2 separate regions of the Homo sapiens genome follow, and region 1 is linked to region 2. Evidence: fine-mapped expression QTL. A gene starts in region 2. The other region holds a variant in brackets. All regions are shown on one strand. Distances are from middle to middle.

Region 1 (9,913 bases), 360 kb after region 2:
GTATTGAACGAGGTTCGAGTATGAAAAAGAGAATAGAAGGTGATAAAGCCATAAAGATGGGTTAGAGCCAAATCGTGATGGGTCTCGTATTCTTTCCTAAGAAATCTGGACTGTCCCGGAGGTAGAGAAGAACGATAGAAGATTTAAAGCAGAAAAGGGAAATTAAAAATAAAATAAAATAAGGGTTGTTAATCCTGGTGGCACTCAGGCGGGTAATCTGGCATACAGAAGAGTGTGGTATAAAGAAGACCTGTTGGAAGACATTGCAGTTGTCCAGGTGAACCGGAAGGAGGACCTGTTGTAGTGGTGGGGAGTAGGAAGTTTGGAGATTACGTTAAAGTTGCTAATTGGATATATTATGTTAAATCAACTTTTTGGTGGTCACAGTGCTTATATTGGATATTCAAAATTGATAGATTGTTCTTGACCACAAGGCACACAACATTTAGCAAAAGAAACAAGCTAGAAACTGTTCACTACAATTCATTGTAATGAATGTTGTAACAAAGTTATGAAAAATGTGCTATGAGATCATAGAGAAGTGCATTATAAAGTTCTCGTTTTGAGATGGTGGCATAAAGGTTCATAACACCTACATTAGACTTTGAGTCTTCTTCTTCCTAATTCAGGTTTGGGGTTTTTCGTTTGTTTTCACCATTACAGCATGGGAAAGCATTCCCTATCCTTATTACATCAATGTTTGTGTTTTATTTTGCTTAGATTGTGATCATGGCTGCTGAGTCTGATGTTCTGCATTTCCAGTTTGAACAGCAAGGAGATGTGGTCTTGCAGAAAATGAATCTTTTGAGACAGCAGAATTTATTTTGTGATGTATCAATTTACATTAATGACACTGAGTTCCAGGGGCACAAGGTGATTTTGGCTGCTTGCTCCACTTTTATGAGAGATCAGTTTTTACTCACACAGTCAAAACATGTCAGAATCACCATCTTACAGAGTGCAGAAGTTGGCAGAAAATTGTTACTGTCTTGCTATACTGGAGCACTTGAAGTTAAAAGGAAAGAGCTTTTGAAATACTTGACTGCTGCCAGTTACCTTCAGATGGTTCACATTGTGGAAAAGTGCACAGAAGCTTTGTCAAAGTATCTGGAAATTGATCTTTCTATGAAAAACAACAACCAACACACTGACCTGTGTCAGTCTTCTGATCCTGATGTTAAGAATGAAGATGAAAATTCTGATAAAGACTGTGAGATAATTGAAATTTCAGAAGATAGTCCTGTAAACATAGATTTCCATGTTAAAGAAGAGGAAAGCAATGCTTTGCAGTCTACAGTAGAGAGTCTGACATCAGAGAGAAAGGAAATGAAGTCACCAGAGCTGTCTACAGTAGACATAGGTTTTAAAGACAATGAAATTTGTATCCTTCATGTAGAATCCATCAGTACAGCTGGTGTCGAAAATGGGCAGTTTTCACAGCCTTGTACCTCTTCAAAAGCAAGCATGTATTTCTCTGAAACACAGCATTCATTGATCAATTCTACAGTTGAGAGCAGAGTGGCTGAAGTTCCTGGGAATCAAGATCAGGGCTTATTTTGTGAGAATACTGAAGGAAGTTATGGTACAGTGAGTGAGATTCAGAATCTGGAGGAAGGTTATTCACTGAGGCACCAGTGCCCCAGGTGTCCTCGAGGCTTTCTTCATGTTGAAAACTATCTGCGCCACCTTAAAATGCATAAACTATTCTTATGCTTACAGTGCGGAAAAACATTTACACAGAAGAAAAATCTCAACCGACACATCCGAGGACACATGGGCATACGGCCCTTTCAGTGTACTGTGTGCTTGAAGACATTTACTGCCAAAAGCACACTTCAGGACCACTTGAACATACACAGTGGGGATCGGCCATACAAATGCCACTGTTGTGATATGGATTTCAAGCACAAGTCTGCTCTCAAAAAGCACTTAACCTCTGTCCATGGCAGAAGCAGTGGTGAAAAACTATCTAGGCCTGATCTCAAAAGGCAAAGTCTACTATAATTATAATCACAGACTTGTTATATAAAGTTTGTATTATTCTATTACGCAAGTCTTTCTGTAGAGATGCAGCATTTGTAATATTTCATCCCCCCAATCTTTGTTTCTTATATTTTGTCGGCTTACACATAATCATTCTTTCTGAACTTCTAACAGTTCCAAAGTTATGGGAGGCACAGTAAAGCTGATGGGATTCTGTCTCATCTCATACCTTACATATAAGTCTCAGTAGTATCCCTAGAGAAATAGTGTTCCTCTCTTATATATTCTTGATTCTAGTGACAAAGGATCCAGCAGTATTTGCAGATTCCGATTTGGAGTCTCTAGGTAATTGATTTAAGTATAAAATCCAATCATATAAAAACTTTAATGAATTAGGATAACAAGAAGAGAAAATAAAGGTAAAAACACTATTACCTGTTTCTAGTCACTTTAGAACAGATGGCACTAAAAAAATTTTTTTTTAACTTTTTACCAGCTGTTCTTGGATTCCAAACTAAACACCAAGATACTTTTCATTTTAAAATGTATAAAGTAACAATTCAGATTCACTTGGGAATAGCAGAATTTTTTTATACAGGGTTAATAATCCTTAAAATACTTTTATTTCCATGCCTTATTAGTATACATACTTAAGAAATGGTTCATTGGGCCCGAGTTTCTTGATTTTATTTAATACAATCGGATTTAATAATTTTGTGGCCAGTAAAATTATACCATTGGCATGAAGCTGTGAAAAATGAGAAATTCTACCTTTACCAGGGATATCTGTTCTACTGTTTTAAAAGTTCCTCTCTATTTTATTTTTTATTTAACATGAAGTAAAATTGAAATTTCTTCTTGGTGTATAGTTCTGTGAATTTTAACAGAAAGATTTGTGCACCACTACTGCAGTCGGTACAGAACAGTTCCTTCACTCCCAATAGCTCTCTTATGCTGTCCCTTTGTAGTCAGCTCCTTCTAGCTCTAATCCTGGCAACAGTTCTCCGTCACTATTATTTTGCCTTTTCTGGACTGTCATATAAACAGAATCTTATAGTACGTTCCCTCTTGAAATGCTTTTTCACCCAGCATAATGACTTTGAGGTTCATCCATGTCATTTTAAATTTTGAATTGGCAATATATATTCTAGCTGTTACTAGATGAGCAATTTAAAAAGGTGTAGCTATTAGTGTTGTATTTTTTCATTTACATTAATGTAATTTCCATTCACTATGTGTTGATAAAAATCTTAACCATCCCTAGAGTTTTATATTTCCAAAAATATGCCAAAAGGAAAACTATGACTGTATGATTATTTTAGCGAGAGTCATATTTGAGATGGTGTTCTGAGCCATAGTTCTCTAACATCTCCGTCTACATATAACACAAAACTTTTATAAATTATTTTAACAAAGATTAAAATATACTGCAGGGCAAATAATATTCTCTAAAACACAGGAACTGCTTTTCGTAAAGAAGACTGACTAGATGCATCTTTCTTTGAAGCTGTTCTAGTCCTCCTCTAGTTAACTTAGCTTTATGTAGAATTTCTACTGTATTTAATTTCTATTGAAGCCCTTCTGTATTTTAAAATGTAATATACTTTGTACCATTTATAAAAATTGTGTGATGAATGAATCACATGTTCGTTGTTATAAGTGTTAACCTTTTTTTGACAATTTTGTGGGAAAGACATTCTCCACTGAATTTTAACTTTCCTTGAGACTTTCAAGAATGCAGGTCTCGTTTGATGAAAAAACCGACTTCATAACCCAATGTTACTAGTTAGCGACATTGTGCTGAATTTCTCCTTGAACTTTTTAACTTTATATGTAAAATAACTTTGATCTTGGTCATTTGAAAGATCATTTCCAGGTCTAAAATTCCATGATTTTGTATTTAATTCTTCCTGAGAACAGAAGAGGGGAAAGCAAGAGAGGACGGTTTTGTGTCTTTATGAACTTTGTTACTTAAGTACTCCATTGGAGACATAATTTTTCTAATTAGTGGATCTTTTTCCACTGGAAAGTGTGATAGCTCATTGCTAATTTTTCATTCATAGTTCATTGCTTCCATTTGACCTAAGATTGGCCATTTGTTGGTGTGAAAATATTTTCTTTTCAGAAATAGTTTACTAGTGATTGAAGTACTTTTCTTATTTTTGCTTCCTATTATAAAATGGCGTGGGGGGAAGGGGGAAGGATGGAGATGGGAGGAGAGGGTAAAAGAATAGTACTCTGATTTTTTAAGAATTAGTATCTACTATCTTGGATATTTGAAAAAAAATTGGTTGAAACTATGTTTAAGTTTTATGTGTGCCTTGTAAGATTGTTGTAAAATTTTTTGTGAGCACTTTGAGATTTTTGCTGGGGGAGGGGTGTTTTGTGAAAGTGATGGTTATTATTTATATTATTTATTCCTGTTCAGTAGCACGGAATGATCTCCAAACATTCCTAGGAGAGTGTCTGTTTGCATGATATGTCTAAAAATTTTCAGGAAAATGGA[A/T]TCTTTTTTTAAAGTTCAGGTATGACAAAGTATAGAATTTATTCATTTAACATATTCACATTTAGTTTATGTTTCTGATATGACAGAAAAATGAAAAGTGTTTGAGTTCAGCCTCTTCATTTACTCCATTTACATATAAAAGATCTTGAAAAGGTAGTTGTTACTTCGTTGTCAGAGAAAAACACTTGCCCTTTTTCCTGGGATGTAACTATCTTACATGTTTACATAAGAAATAATAAACTGGAGGTGGGAATGGAGAACAATGTGTTTTGTCTTCATCTTTGAATTTTAAAGGATACAATTTAAAGGATACAATTTCTCCTGACTATACATTAATCATTCATCTAGCAAATACTTCCTGAGTCCTTACAATGAAATATAAGTTAGGTATACAGACAAAAATTCCTGCTCTTGTGAAACATCTTAGTGAAGGGAGACAAACAGTAAACAAGTAAGTAAAATCCATGTATGTCAAATTTTGAGAAGGAATTTGGAGAAAAATCAGGAATAGGGAGTACCAGAGAAGGGGGATGGAATTGCAATTTTAAATATGGTGGTCAGCGCCGGGCGCCGAGGCTCAGGCCTGTAATCCTAACACTTAGGGAGGCCGAGGCTGGCAGATCACTTGAGGTCAGGAGTTTGAGACAAGCCTGGCCAACCTGATGAAAACCCTTCACTAAAAATACAAAAATTAGCCGGGCATGGTAGCGCTTGCCTGTAATCCCAGCTACTCGGGAGTCTGAGACAGGAGAATCCGTTGAACCTGGGAGGCAGAGGTTGCAGTAAGCCAATATCGCACCGCTGCAGTCAGCCTAACTGAGGGAGCAAGACCCCATCTCAAAAATAAATATGGTGACCAGGACACCTTTGAAAAATCTCGGATTATCAGAAATATATATTCTTCTGTCTAGTGAAATGTAAATATATCCAGTAGAATAGAAAAATTTGGCCTGGACTGGTGGCTCACGCCTGCAATCCCAGCACTTTTGGAGGCCGAGGCAGGCGGGTCTTCTGAGGTCAGGAGTTCAAGACCAGCCTGGCCAACATGGTGAAAACCCGTCTCTACAAAAATACAAAAAAGAAATTTAGCCGGGCATGATGACGGGTGCCTGTAATTCCAGCTACTGGGGAGGCTAAGGCAGGAGAATTCCTTGAACCCAGGAGGTGGAGGTTGCAGTGAGCTGAGATCACACCATTGCACTCCAGCCTGTGTGACAGAGTGAGACTCCGTCTCAAAAAAAAAAATATGTACATATATGTATATATAATGTGTATGTTTATATGTGTATATATACTTATATGTATCTATATATGTGTATATATATTTATATGTATGTATATATGTATATATGTGCATATATGTATATATGTGTGTATATATATATATACACAGTAGGGTGGAAAACAAATATGTACATGTAAATTACCTATCACTGTCCAGTTGAAATTACTGAAACAATTATTGGTTGTTAACAGTTCTCTAGGCCTGGCATATGTTTCATAAAGAGAAGAGAACGAAAAAGATAATGTGTGGAAGAAACGTCTTCGATGTGGCCAATGAATCTTTTTTCAAAAACACTGATTTTTGCCTGTCATTCAGACAAATATAATAGGTAATAACTATATATTTTGTTAAAACTGTAGAAGCAACCTTTCCATATTCTAATTTATCGTAGGTTTACTTCGATATTTTTGTTGTTGGGCATCTGATTTCACATTGGAAAGTGCCTTGAGTTTAATTACAAGTCATGGTCATTTTTTTTCTTCTTTTTTTTGTTGAGACGGAGTCTGGCACTGCCCCCCCGCCTGGCTGTAGTGCAATGGCGCGGTCTCGGCTCACTGCAACCTCCGTCTCCCGGGTTCAAGTGATTCTCCTGCCTCAGCCCCCCGAGTAGCTGGGATTACAGGTGCCCGCCACCACACCCGGCTAATTTTTGTATTTTTAGTAGAGCCAGGGTTTCACTATGTTGGCCAGACTGGTCTCTAACTTCTGACCTGGCGGTCCACCCGCTTCGGCCTCCCAAAGTGCTGGTATTACAGGCATCAGCCACCGCGCCCGGCGTCATGGTCATTTTCTAGCCTACATTCTTTAGTTTCTCATCAGTAACAAGGGGTACATTGTATCTGTCTTCTAGGATCACTTTGCTAATTAAATGAAATGTAAATAAAACTAAAATATTTAAAATTAAATATCACCTAACACAGGACCTGCCTGACACATACTAAGTAGTTTATAAATGTTAATTCTGATATCCCTATTCCAAGTCTGTTTCATCTATAAATTATAAACTGTAAGAATAATTCTTACCTTAGTTCGCTGTGTAAAAAGCTTCAACAAATATTTGAGATATGATGCCAGAATTTGTGCTTAAATTTTTTATTTTTGCCAGCTTTTGAGGAGCTCAGAGCTTTCTTCCCCCCCTCCCCCCCCCACTTTGGACTCTTTGTCTAGAAACAGAGTTTTCTCTTTAATAAAGAAGTGAGATGTGGAAGTGCCTGCCAAATACATGTTTTCTTCTTGTTTTTGTAATGGGGAGATTACTTGACATCTTTGTAAAGGGATTGAGGGATCCTGTCGGCATGTCATCACAGGAGTGTGAAGAAGAATGTGACACAGATGTATCAGATTCTGCTCAATGGATTCCACGCTTTTCACGAAGGGAGTTAAGACACTCGCTCAAACCAGCGTCTAGGAAGCCGGCTCAAGGCGCAGATGAATGTGCAGGGAATTTCCCATCAATCCCTTCGGCTTGCCTAGTCCTTCTCACAGTACCTCCCACAGTGCTCCGGGGCTCCCTTGTCACGTGATCGGGGTGGATCCGCTGAGGCAGAGGGAAGTTGATTCGCAGTTTGGGTGGCTGGGGCTACTACGCTTTCCTTCCAACTCCCGACTCCCGGGCTTGCGTAATCTCGCGTTAAGTGGGGAGTAACTTCTCGCGAGAGCTAGATCGGGATCCCTCCAGGTCCGCCTCCGTGGTGAGGAGGAGGAGGAGGAGGAGGCGGAGGTGGAGGGAGGAGGAGGAGGCCCCGTCGCGGCCTTCGCCGCCGCCAACGGGGCTGTCCCTGTAGCTCCCGATGGAGTTTGAGGTCGTGAAACCTCCGCCGAGCTCTGCCCCGGCGAGACGAGGCGCCTCCGTCGCCAAGCCGCGCCGTCGCGGGGCTCCCGGGAGCGGCCCTTAGCGACCCCGCCCGGGCCCCCTCAGGTAGGGCGGGGGCGGGCACGATGCGGCTCGGGCCCCAGCCCGGGTGCCTGGTCCCCGGCGGTCGGGCGGGAGACCAGTCTCAGCCCTGGGGCCTGTGCGCTGTCGCCCCTGGTGCCTCGAGGGTTGGGAACTGAGGGCCGCACCTGACACTCGGATGGAACCCGGGCCCTGCGGAGGCCCCTCTCTCTGGTAGGGCTTTTTCGATGCGGAGCGACCGGCTCAAATGGCCACCTTCCTTCGACACTGGCCGAGCGGACGCCTCTGACCCCTAACGAACCCACCCAAGCAAAGGCCCGGCTTCACTCTCCCTTTTCTACACCAGTTAGTAAGGGGGTTTGGAAGAGGTCCTCGAAACCAAGTCTTCTCCTAGCTTTTCAGCTTTCTGCCCTGGGGCTTCCCGAGACCCTAGCGTAGAGGGTGGTGGAGGCGATCTGAGTGGTAAATAGGAACCCCGGCCAAACAATGCCCTGGGAGGGCTTAACCTCCCAGGATGGGGACGGCCGGACCTGAGTGGTTGCACAGGGGTTGTGGCTAGGAGCAATGGCATGAAACACAGCCAGGAAATTCTGCTATGGCTTTCTTCTTTCCCTCTCTCATTTTTCCTTTTTGGTGTAGCCTCTTGAGGAGACTCTTCCACCATCTTAGAAGAATGGTAGAAAGCATCTTTGTTTCCCAGAGAAGCAGCTGTACTTTTTTCTATCCTTAGCTTTCAGGATGGGAGAAGATGAGGGTAGCTGTCATTTCCATCCTTCAAATCCCAAGGCAGCCGTTTAAGATACCGGCAGATAAATCCTTCACACCAAAATTGACTCAAGTAATCACTGGCATAAAGTAAATCTAATCCAGTGATTTATTTATATTTTCATAACCCTTGGGTTCCCTTTTTAATTCCTCCTCTCCCCTTACCCACGGCCTTCCTTTTTTTCATTTCTACTCTCCCCCTACCCATTGTGGGTGGGTGAGTTTGTATCCCAAATAAAGTGCTTTAAGTAATCTTTTTTCCAATTTTGTATTGGCCAAACTTTTAAGTTCCAGTAGGAACTTTTGGTTAACCTGAGAAAGCTAACGTTGCTATACCACAGTGGTATAAAGTCACTCAAAAGCAAAGAAACAAATGTTAGCCAGTGCAGCCTTTTAATGGTTAAACATACAAACTTAGTTAAAAGCTTTTTACGATATTAAGAATATTAATAGATTCTCCTTTTTAAAAAACCTTTTAGCTGTCTAAAAAGCTATACCACTGTTGTAGCTTCACATGCCTTTCTTACGTTGTTTACTTCCACGTTCAATTTTTGAAGAAATAGAGGTCGTTACATCCTGTTAAAGACTGCTTTTCAATATTGACATTTTCGTTGATTTGGAGATTAATGTTTTCAAAATTTTAGAGTTTGGAAAATTGCTAGGAGGACAGAATGTGAAACATATTCTAGTTACGTTTAGAAAAAGCAGATGTTATAATTCAAACAGGCACTTGTTCTATGAGGATTTAATTACACTCGTGTTCATTAGTGGATCCTTTGAGTTACCCCTGATCTGTTATTTCTGTTGTGGTAACCTGACATGTAAGAAGACTTACGTCCTTTGTTCATATATTTTTGTTAAATCATACTCTGCTTTTGTAATTTGCTGTCTTCCACTTTGAAAAAACCAAAAATTTGCATTTTGGCAAAGCATTCTTCTTTACACTCAGGATTTTATATTCAAAAGTTGAACTTCTACATTGTTTGCAATAGCTAAGAACGCTAAAAAAAACTTCATAACAAGGTTTTAGTAACTACTTACTGTTTAGTTTGTACCGTGTTGAAGTTTCACTTTTTAGTGATGGAAAAAGGAAGCATGGGTAAAATAAAGCTAGCTGAAAATTAAAAATAAGTTCATGTTTTGCATCCAGTCTCATGAATGTTATGATCAGCGTCTCTAATTTTACTAAAGCTTTAAGTGTAAGTGTGAGTTTTACCTCAATTTCCTGATAAAAGTTCTAAGTATTACTTTATAATTTAAATATTCTAGAGTTGCACTGTCCAGTACTAGCCAGTGGCCACATGTGACAGTTGAAGATTTGAAATGTGGCTTCTGTGAATTGAGATGTGCTTTAGGTGTAAAATACCAGATTTCAAAGACTTAGTACCAAGATTTTTTTTAATATCTCAGTAATTTTAATATTGACAACATGTTGAAATGATATTTTGTATAAACTGGGATAAATAAAATATATTACTAA
Region 2 (9,913 bases):
CACCACATGTTCTCACTCACAGGTGGGAATTGAACAATGAGAACACTTGGACACAGGAAGGGGAACATCACACACCGGGGCCTGTTGTGGGGTGGGGGGAGGGGGGAGGGATAGCATTAGGAAATATACCTAACGTAAATGACGAGTTAATGGGTGCAGCACACCAACATGGCACATGTATACATATGTAACAAACCTGCACGTTATGCACATGTACCCTAGAACTTAAAGTGTAATAAAAAAAAAAAAATATATATATATATATATATATATATATAGAAGGTGAGCACCTTCTATAGATGGCAGTGTAGCTTGGGACCAACAGCCCGGAACTGGGAGTTAGACCAGAGCCCACCTTCAGCTGGGGCAGGGTAGCTGTTTGCTTGCTTTTGTATTCCTAGGAACTAGCATGTAATAGGTTTTCAGTAAATATTTGAGCAATAAATGGATAAAACAGGGGGTGCTGGTACTTGAACTTAGGTGTGATTTCAAAGTGCGCTGAACTCAAGAGCTTTACAACGTCTATTACCTTCCCCTATTTATAATAGTGAAAATATTGGAAAGCACCCAAATACCCAACACAGGTACTTGGTTTAATTAAATGTTTCTTAAAATACGACATTATGCAGAAGAATATTTAGTTACACAAAAGGAAGTGTATTCATTTTATATTAAGTGAAAATAATCAAAACAGAAGGCATACAATAATCTCACTTTGTAAAAGAGATATATTTATATGCATAAAAAAGGTTGGAACAATATATATACATAGGAAAAGTTTGGGTTATTATTACTGGTTGAGATTAGGTGACACTTTTATTCCTTTTTTTCTTTTCTTTTTCTTTTTCCTTTTTTTTTTTTTTTTTTTTTTTGAGACAGAGTTTTCCTCTTGTCACCCAGGCTGGAGTGCAATGGCGTGAACTTGGCTCACTGCAACCTCCGCCTCCTGGGTTCAAGCAATTCTCTTGCCTCAGCCTCCCAAGTATCTGGGATTACAGGTGCCTGCCAACACACCTGGCTAATTTTTTGTATTTTTAGTAGAGACAGGGTTTCACCATGTTGGCCAGGCTGGTCTCGAACTCCTGACCTCAGGTGATCCACCCACCTCAGCCTCCCAAAGTGCTGGGATTACAGGCATGAGCCACAGCACCTGGCCTTTATTCTTTTTTCCTAAAAGGTCTATTTGATTTTTGTTCTTTCTTTCTTTTTTTTTTTTTTTCAAGAGGTTCTGTCACCCAGGCTGGAGTGCAGTGGTGTGATCTTGGCTCCCTGAAAACTCTGTCTCCCAGGTTCAAGTGATTCTCCCACCTCAGCCTCCCAAGTAGTTGGAACTACAGGCATGTGCCACCACACCTGGCTAATTTGTCTATTTTTTGGTAGGGACAAGGTTTCACCATGTTCGCCAGGCTGGTTTCAAATTTCTGGCCTCAAGAGATCCATCCGTCTCGGCATCCAAAAGTGCTGAGATTACAGGTGTGAGCCACTGTGCCAGGCCGAAAAGGTCTACTTTATTTATTTATTTATTTATTTATTTGTTTGTTTGTTTGAGACGGAGTCTTGCTGTGTCTCCCAGGCTGGAGTGCAGTGGCACCATCTTGGCTGACTGTAACCTCCGCCTCCTGGGTTCAAGTGATTCTCCTGCCTCAGCCTCCTGAGTAGCTGGGACTACAGGCACGTGCCACTGCACCCGGCTAATTTTTGTATTTTTAGTAGAGATGGGGTTTCACCATGTTAGCCAGACTGGTCCCTAACTCCTGACCTCAGGCGATCCGCTCACCTCGGCCTCCCAAAGTGCTGGTATTACAGGCATGAGCCCCCGGCACCCAACCAGTCTGTTTGATTTTTTTACAAAAATGTATCAGGCCCTGTGCAGAGGCTCACACCTGTAGTTGCAGCACTTTAGGAGGCTGAGGAGGGAGTATCCCTTGAGCCCAGAGTTTGAGACCAGCCTGGGCAACATGATGAAACCCAGTCTCTACTAAAAAAAATACAAAAAGTTAACCTGGCACAATGGCATGCCTGTAGTCCCAGCTGCTCAGGAGGCTGAGGTGGGAGGATCGCTTGAACCTGGGAGACAGAGGTTTCAGTGAGCCGAGATTGCGCCACTGCACTCCAGCCTGGGTGACAGAACAAAACTCTGTCTAAAAAAAAAGAAGTATCAGATATACCAGAAAAAACAAAAAATAGAGACAGAAAGTAGACTGGTGTTTGCTTGTGGCCAGGGTTGGAAATGGGATTAACACTTAATGAGCATGAGAGTCTTACGGGGGATCCATAAGGTATGCTAAATGTTCTTTTTTTTTTAGACAGAGTTTTCCTCTGTCACCAGGCTGGAGTGCAGTGCCATGATCTTGGCTCACTGTAACCTCTGCCTCCTGGGTTCAAGCCATTCTCCTGGCTCAGCCTCCTGAGTAGCTGGGATTACAGGTGTCCACCACCATGCCCAGCTAATTTTTGTATTTTTAGTAGAGACGGGGTTTCACCATGGTGGTCAGGATGGTCTCGATCTCCTGACCTCGTGATCTGCCCACCTTGGCCTCCCAAAGTGCTGAGCCACCGTGCCCGGCAAGGTATGCTAAATGTTCTGAAACTGACTTATGTTAATGTTGCACCACTTAGTGAAGTTACTGAAAATCATTGGATTGTACATTTTTGAAATGCATAATTTTATGTGTAAACTATACCTCAAGTAAATTGTTAAAAATCTATGTGTGATTACACGCCTGTAATCACAGCACTTTGGGAGGCCAAGGCGGGAGAATCACTTGAGACCAGGAGTTCGAGACCAGCCTGGCCCATCTCTACTAAAAATACAAAAAAAATTAGACGGGTGTGGAGGCACACGCCTGTAATCCCAGCTACTTGGGAGGCTGAGGCAGGAGAATGGCTTGAACCTGGGAGACTGAGGTTGCAGTGAGGCGAGATTGTGCCACTGCACTCCAGACTGGGTGACAGAGTGAGACTCTGTCTCAAAACAAAACAGGCTGGGCACGGTGGTTCACGCCTGTAATCTCAACACTTTGGGAGGCCGAGGCGGGCAGATCATTTGAAGTCAGGAGTTCAAGACTAGCCTGACCAACATGGTGAAACCTCATCTCTACTAAAATACAAAAATTAGCCAGGCATGGTGGCAGGCGCCTGTAATCTCAGCTACTCAGGAAGCTGAGGCAAGAGTATCACTTGAACCCAGGAGGCAGAGGTTACAGTGAGCCAAGATTGCGCCACTGCACTACAGCCTGGGCGACAGAGCAAGACCCCTCTCAAAAACAAAGCAAAACAAAAATCTGCATATGTATCCTTAAAAAATTAAAACAATGCAGAAATTTTTAAGTCCTCCATCCCCACACCCAGTTCTATCTTCCAGGCATAACCAATAGTGGTTGGTGTTTAATCCTTTCTGACGTTTTTCTATGGAGAATCCAACATACACATTACAGATAAATAATTTTCTGCAACTTTCTTTTTTCTTTGGACATGTAATGAGGGACATGAAAAATTAACAGTAACTACTCTGGAGTTGGGATTGGGGTAGTGGGAGTGGAGTCAAGGGCAGGAAGGGAGAGAGACATTAACTTTTTTTTTGAGACGGAGTTTCGCTCTTGTTGTCCAGGCTAGAGTGCAATCACGGGATCTCGGCTCATTGCAACCTCTGCCCCCCGGGTTCAAGCGATTCTCCTGCCTCAGCCTCCCGAGTAGCTAGGATTACAGGTACACACCAACACGTCCGGCTAATTTTCGTATTTTTAGTAGAGATGGGGTTTTGCCCCATTGGCCAGGCTGGTCTTGAACTCCTGACCTCAGGTGATCCACACGCCTCGGCCTCCCAAAAGTGCTAGGATTACCAGCGTGAGCCACTGCGTCTGGCCTAACTTTTTACTTTCTTTCCTTTTATATAATTTGCATGCTTTTGTCTCAGTGTTTGGAGTTACAAACCCAATAAAGATATTGAAACAAGAAATACTATTGAATCCTTAATGCCATGCTGTTCTTCTATTTTAAAAAAATTAAAAATGTAACCAAGTGCTGGACACCGTGCTGAGTGCCTTAGATATACGGTTGCAATGAATCCTTCTAACAACCCTACAATATGCAATACTATTAGTCTCACTTGGCAGATGAGTAAACTTAGACTAGAGAGATTGATTTTCCAAGATCACACAGCTAGTGTGCAGTGAATCTGGATCTTTACAGTGTGGCGCCTCTTCTCCCTCTGATACTTATGGGCATCCTACAAAACCCAGCTTTAATGATCTCATGTCATGTGCACGTGTAGTCTTCCCTAACACACTTAGGCAGGAAGATGACCCTGTCCTCAAGGGACTGAGAGACCAGGGAGGAGACAGACAGCTAAACAATTACAATCTAGTGCCATGAGAATACATATAGCTTAACAGGACTATGTTCAAGCCGAGGGAGCTTAGACCATGTGTCTGAGGCAGCCAAGGATCTCCAGAGAATATACTCTGAGCTGATTGATAAGGATACCCAGGATTTTTTTCAGGAGGGTCAAGGAAGGTGTGAGTGGTCAGAGGTGGGGAGAGGGTTTAGAAAGGGATTTGCGGCCTGGCATCTGTCTCAGGAGACTCAGGCTCCTACACACCTGGGCATACTCTGGAAACAACAGTACTGTAGTTCTGTGTGGCTGGAGGGTCACATTGGCCTGAAGGAGGGGCAAAGGGAAGGGCGTGCACCTTGAAGCTTAAGGCCAGATCACCAAGGCCTTTTCAGTTGAAATTGGGTTTTTTACACTTTATTCTGTGAATGAAACAGAGCTGTTAAAATATTTGAGCCTGGTGTGTTAGAAAGATGAAAAGGGGCCCCAAGGGGGCTGTTGTGGGGAGTCCCTCCTCAACCCCTGGGCTGTTCAAGGTCCTCTGTCTTGGCACTGAGTGGTCAGGTCGTTTCTGCTCCAGGCTGGGAATTGTCTTAGGGCAAAGACATTGTCTCATTTGCCAGTGCATCCCTGCAGCCTGCAAACCCCCCGGTATACAGCAGGGACTGTATACTGGCAAGCAGAATGCTGGGCACCAAGAACTTGAGGCCAGGGACTGTAGAATAGAAAGCGAACCTTTAATTCTTCCCCAGCGCCGCCCCTGGCACAGAGCTGGTAGGTGTTCAGCCAAAGTCTGACCCAACCATAAGGAGGTCAGAGAGGTCCTGGGCCCAAACTCAATCCCAGCGAGGTTCATTATAGGCAGGTGAAGGAGAGGTGATTGTAGCAGCTTCTGTTCAGCGACTGCTGTGTGCCAGGATTCACACCTATTGTCTTATGCCATCTCCCCAACAGCTCCTAAATTGGAATTATTGTCCCAGTTTTCCTGATGAGGAAACTGAGGCTCAGAACGGTTCTTGGTAACTTGGCCAAGGTCACACAGCCAGCAAGTAGGTGGGCGGTGGCACAAGTCAAAGCCTACTGGCCTGCCCCTCTACCTCGGGAGGCAGTGCGACGCCTACTCCATTTGTGTGGCTGCTGGGGTTGGGGGGCATCCCGCACTGGGGTGCGGGGCCCGGGGAAGGCGGCTAGCCGCCGCGGCTCGGCGCAGCTCCCAGGTTCGGAAGTTACGAAGTTTCCGTGCATTTCGCTAGCCTCCCAGCGCAGCTCGTCTCCGCTCCGCCGCAGTTACGCCGCTAGCGCAGCGGGGCTCAGGTGCTGCAGCGAGCGGGGGCCTGGGGCCGGGAGGAAGGCGGGGACGCAGTTTACGTAAGCGTCCGCTGGCAGGTGCATAAGGCCGCCGGCGGCGAGTGCTCCCTGCGCGCTCCCAGGTGCGCACTTGGCGCAGGCGGCGGCACAGCAAGGCGGCGGCGGGCGCTGGCCGGCGCTCTCAGGTGCGGCAGGACGCGCGTGGAGGGGGCGCGCGGCGAACGAGGGGGCGGGCTTTCCGTTCCCCAGCAGCCGCGGGGCCCGCCCCCTGGCCTGGCCAATGGGCGCGCTCGACGGTGTCACGTGCTCGCTGCCGCCGCTGCCGCCGCCGAAGCGGAGACCGGAGCCGCGAGCGCCACCAGGGCAGCAGCCGCCGCAGCCGCCGCCGCTGGGCAGAGGAGCCGGAGACGCGAGCGGGCGAGGTGGCGGCGGCGGCGGAGCGGGAGCGGGTACCGGGCGCGGGCAGAGCGCGGCGGCGCGGGTAGGCTCCGGCGGCGGGGCGGGCGCCTGCGCGGCGGGCCGTCCCGGGCGGGCGGCGGTTAAGGCGGCGGTTGAGGCGGTTGGCGGAGCCGGCCCGGGCCCCGCATTGTTTGTTGTGCGTCCTTAGCAGCGGCGGCGGCGGTGGCGGCCGAGGCGGAGAGCAGGGAGCAATCCCGGCCCCGCGGCTCCGGCATTGTGGCCGCCGCCGCCGCCGCTGCGGTGCCCCGGCCGCTTCGGGCAAGGGCAGCGGGCAGCCTTCCTCACCTTCGCGGGGACGGGGTCCCGGCCGATCAGGGGAGGGCGTGGGCAGGGTTGGGGGACGCGGTGCCGGGAGGTCTTCCGGGACGGAGGGCTCGGGGCTCGGGGCAGGTGTTGGAGGACATTGGGGGCAGGAGCTGGGGAGAGGCTTCGGGGGGCAGGCGGAAGGTGTGGGCAGATTTGGGGGTAAATAGGGGTGCAGAGGGATCCGGCCCAATGGAGGAGGAGAGCCTTCAGGCAGGTTTGGGGGGCCCCCTGGGCCAGGCGAGTGCGAGATGGAGGACATTCCGTCCGGTGGGGGGGGGCACTATATTGTGGGGTTCAAGAGGGAATGAGGGGGCTTTTGGGGAGGGCAGGGACGAGTGGGGTGGGAATGGAGGGAGAAGACTGGGGACTCGAGCAGGACTGGAAGGAGCGCTGCGTGCCAGGGGCAGGGAGTGGGGCGGGTATTAGGAAGGCCACCGGGACGCCCGTGAAGGGGAACGATGGAGGAGGGGGTCGGGGCAGGGGGAAGTGAGGGCAGGCAGGGAGCGCCTGAAAGGGAGGGAGGGGAGCAGGGTGCCTAGGCTTCTGGGGTGATAGGGAAATGAAGGGTAGGCCCAGGGGCTCCAGGAGACCTGCGAGGGGTGTGAGGGAGTGTGTGGCCAGGTGTATAGGGGAGCCTGCAGGGAGGCGGGAGGGGGTTGACATGTAAGGATAAAAAGGCAGGTATCTGGTGCTCAGGGAAGAGGAGTATGGGGTGGAAGGGGGAAGTTCATTGGGGCAGAGACTTAGTTTGAGGGCTTGCAGAGAGAGGTGGGGACAGTAGGAGAAGGGTGATGGGGATGGAGAGCAGGAGGTGTGTGGGGCATTTAAAGGATAGCGGGAGAAGTGCGTGAAATGGAGGGTGTTTATGCAGGAAGTATGGAAGAAGGTGGGATCAGCAAGAGAGGGAATTTTGAGGTAGGACGGAGGGTGAGGGGTTCTTGGCAAGTGTTGGAGGACGTTAGGGGCAGGAGCTGGGGGAGAGGGACAGGTGTGGGGTGGCGTGGAGTGTGTGAGGTGGAGGGCAAAAGGGGGTGGGGAAAGGGAAGTGTTCTTGGAGTGGCAGGTAAAGTGTGGGGACAAATGGAAGGAAAGATTTCTGAGGCGGGAAGTGTGGAGCGGTTGGGGAGGAGGAAGGTGGAGGGGAGGGTGAGAACGAAATCAGTAGAGGGGGACAACGGGATAGACTGGAGGGGAAGGTGGACAGGTCTGGAGTACAGTAGGTGGAGGGAGGGAAGCACAGGTTTGGGGCACTGAATTTTGTGCTGTAGGGAGAAGGGAGGTAGGGAGAAAGAAGGAAGGTAGACAGGCTATTTTGGGGTAGAGGATGTAGAAGAATGCTTAATACCTATAGTGGAGTAAGGGAAGGGCAAGGCAGAGGTGTATGTGGACATGTCTGTAACTAGAAAGGCATAGGTGATGGATTGGAGTGGTGGTGGTGGTGGTGGGGGAAATAGGATGCCCAGGTTTAGGGCAGGAAATGACTGCTTAAGTTGGAGAGAGCTAGGAACACAGGTTGCTTAAGAGAGTATGGAAGATCCAAGGAGTGGAAGTATGGGGAGAGATTGGAACACTTTGAGTTTGAGAGATGAAAGGGGCCAAGATTTTTAGGTCACTGAGAGTCTAAGGAAGATCAGGCAGAGTGCAGAAGTTGGAAAAATAACTAAATGGAGAGGATTAAATTCCATACTGAGAGAAACTGGAGATTGAGGGGTGGGGGGACCTGGATCCTGGAATGATGTTAATGGAAAGTGGAGGACATTAAACTCAGTGTCATATCTGAAAGTTCATACTCCTAGGGTCAGAGAGATCGTTGAGCCTGCTTTTAATTCCAGAACCCAGTAAATGAGGAAGGGGGAAGGGGTAAGGGAGAGCTGAGTGCACATCCCCAAATTTGGGAGAGGTGTGTAGTGGGTATCATCCTAGCATATTGGTTTGACGAGTGGACAGAAGGGCCACACAGGGTCACGAGGAGCGCACCAAGAGTGAATGGAAATGGGATTGCAGCAGGTGCAGGGCAGATGTCTTTGTGAAACTGGAAGAGACCAGGCCCAGTGGCCAGTAGCATTCAAGGGCTATGCATAAGAGAGGAAGAAAGGGATACCTTGGTGCAGTGTCTCAGATACCCTGGTGCTTTCTGGGTAATGGGTCAGTATTCAGGCAGCATGGGGTGATGTAATATCTGAGTCCCATGCTATAGGCAGACAGAAGTAATGTACACCTAGCTCCTAAAAGTGGCAGAATTGGAGCTTTCTGACTCTTAACACTCTTTCAAGGCGTGAATAACTGATCTGGATTGTTGACTTTTTCTCCCAAATGGTTCAGGTAAAATTTAGTTGGAGGCTTTTGGATTCTCTGGTATTTTGATTTGAGTTGGGAAGTGTAATGTTAGCTTTATTGAGGAAAGACACTTATGGGTTGGGCGGACATATGGCCTTCAGCTTGCCAAACACATGGGAAGTAACCTTTAGGGGTTTGAACACAGACATTTATTTCAGTGCAAGTCTCATTCACTGTTCTGTGGCTTGTGTTAGATTCTTAGGGGTTTGAAAGGATTAAGCAAACTACTTTGAGACTGCTTCAGTAAGCAAGGTTTCCTAGAATCTTGGAAAACGATTTCCCTTTTGACAGTTGAAAATTAAGTCTTGTCAGATTTTGCTAAGAAATAAATTTCATCATGTTGCAGAAATAACTTCAATTATCACTCTGTGGGCTTCACGTAATGTGTAGTGTGGTACCTAGTATGATTTCAAATAAAAGGTTCGCTTTGGTAGCTTGGGAGCTTTCTGGGTTGATTAGTTTTCTTCTTTTGTCGATTTAGGAAGTATCTTAATGCAGCCATTGTATGTTCGAATAATAAGTTTGAGTGGAAGTGGGAATCTTGCCTAAACATAATGAGGGCGGAGCAGAACACCAAATTTTAAGTAATCGGAATCCGTTAATATAAATATTAAAAAAAAAACCTGGAAGCAAATGATTCGTAAAATCCAAATTTGAAGTGTGTCATGGCAGCAAAAGAATGCTCTGAAGGCATTACTGTAAGATTTTATTTTTGGAGGGAAAGATTTTTAGAGTATAATGTCCCTTCGATTGAAACTCTGAGTATTTTGAGATTTGATATATGTATACAATATAATATAGGGAGCATGTCTGACCTCATTTGCTTTTTGGCAGAGAATTTGAGCAGTAGGATATAAGATGAATAGAGTGAGCTTTGAAAGTTCTCTCCAACATAGCCATTGTTTCCTCCTTATATTTCTTAAGTCCATTGTGTTCATTTTATTGACTTGGGGTGCGCACTACTTTCTTGCTCAGAATACTCAATTCTGGTATAGTGTTCGGATTATATGTATTGTTCAGTGAAATTCTATGAATTGGGACAATTTGTAGGCACTTTAGATATCCTAAGTTTACGAACCAAGGAAAGCAGGTTATTTAGGCTTTGTAGGCTGAATAATTGGGTTCTGGTTTTATTTTCGCTGGTGACTTGCTGGACAAGATATTTAATCC

Evidence for each region.
Region 1: its variant is fine-mapped to the expression of STRBP in testis (GTEx, PIP above 0.99).

What each region holds. Positions count from the first base shown.
Region 1 is chr9:122,902,889-122,912,801 of GRCh38, reverse strand. RC3H2 (ring finger and CCCH-type domains 2) reads left to right here and starts at 7,443. Exons shown (of 21, transcript NM_001100588.3): 1 at 7,443-7,692. ZBTB6 (zinc finger and BTB domain containing 6) reads left to right here. Exons shown (of 2, transcript NM_006626.6): 2 at 721-4,746. The coding sequence starts at 730. The coding sequence ends at 2,004. RefSeq lists a silencer at 7,339-7,988. The variant A/T (reference allele first, on the strand shown) is at 4,490.
Region 2 is chr9:123,264,645-123,274,557 of GRCh38, reverse strand. It overlaps STRBP (spermatid perinuclear RNA binding protein), which reads left to right and starts at 5,972. Exons shown (of 19, transcript NM_018387.5): 1 at 5,972-6,122. RefSeq lists silencers at 5,547-6,026, 6,197-6,246 and an enhancer at 5,646-6,146.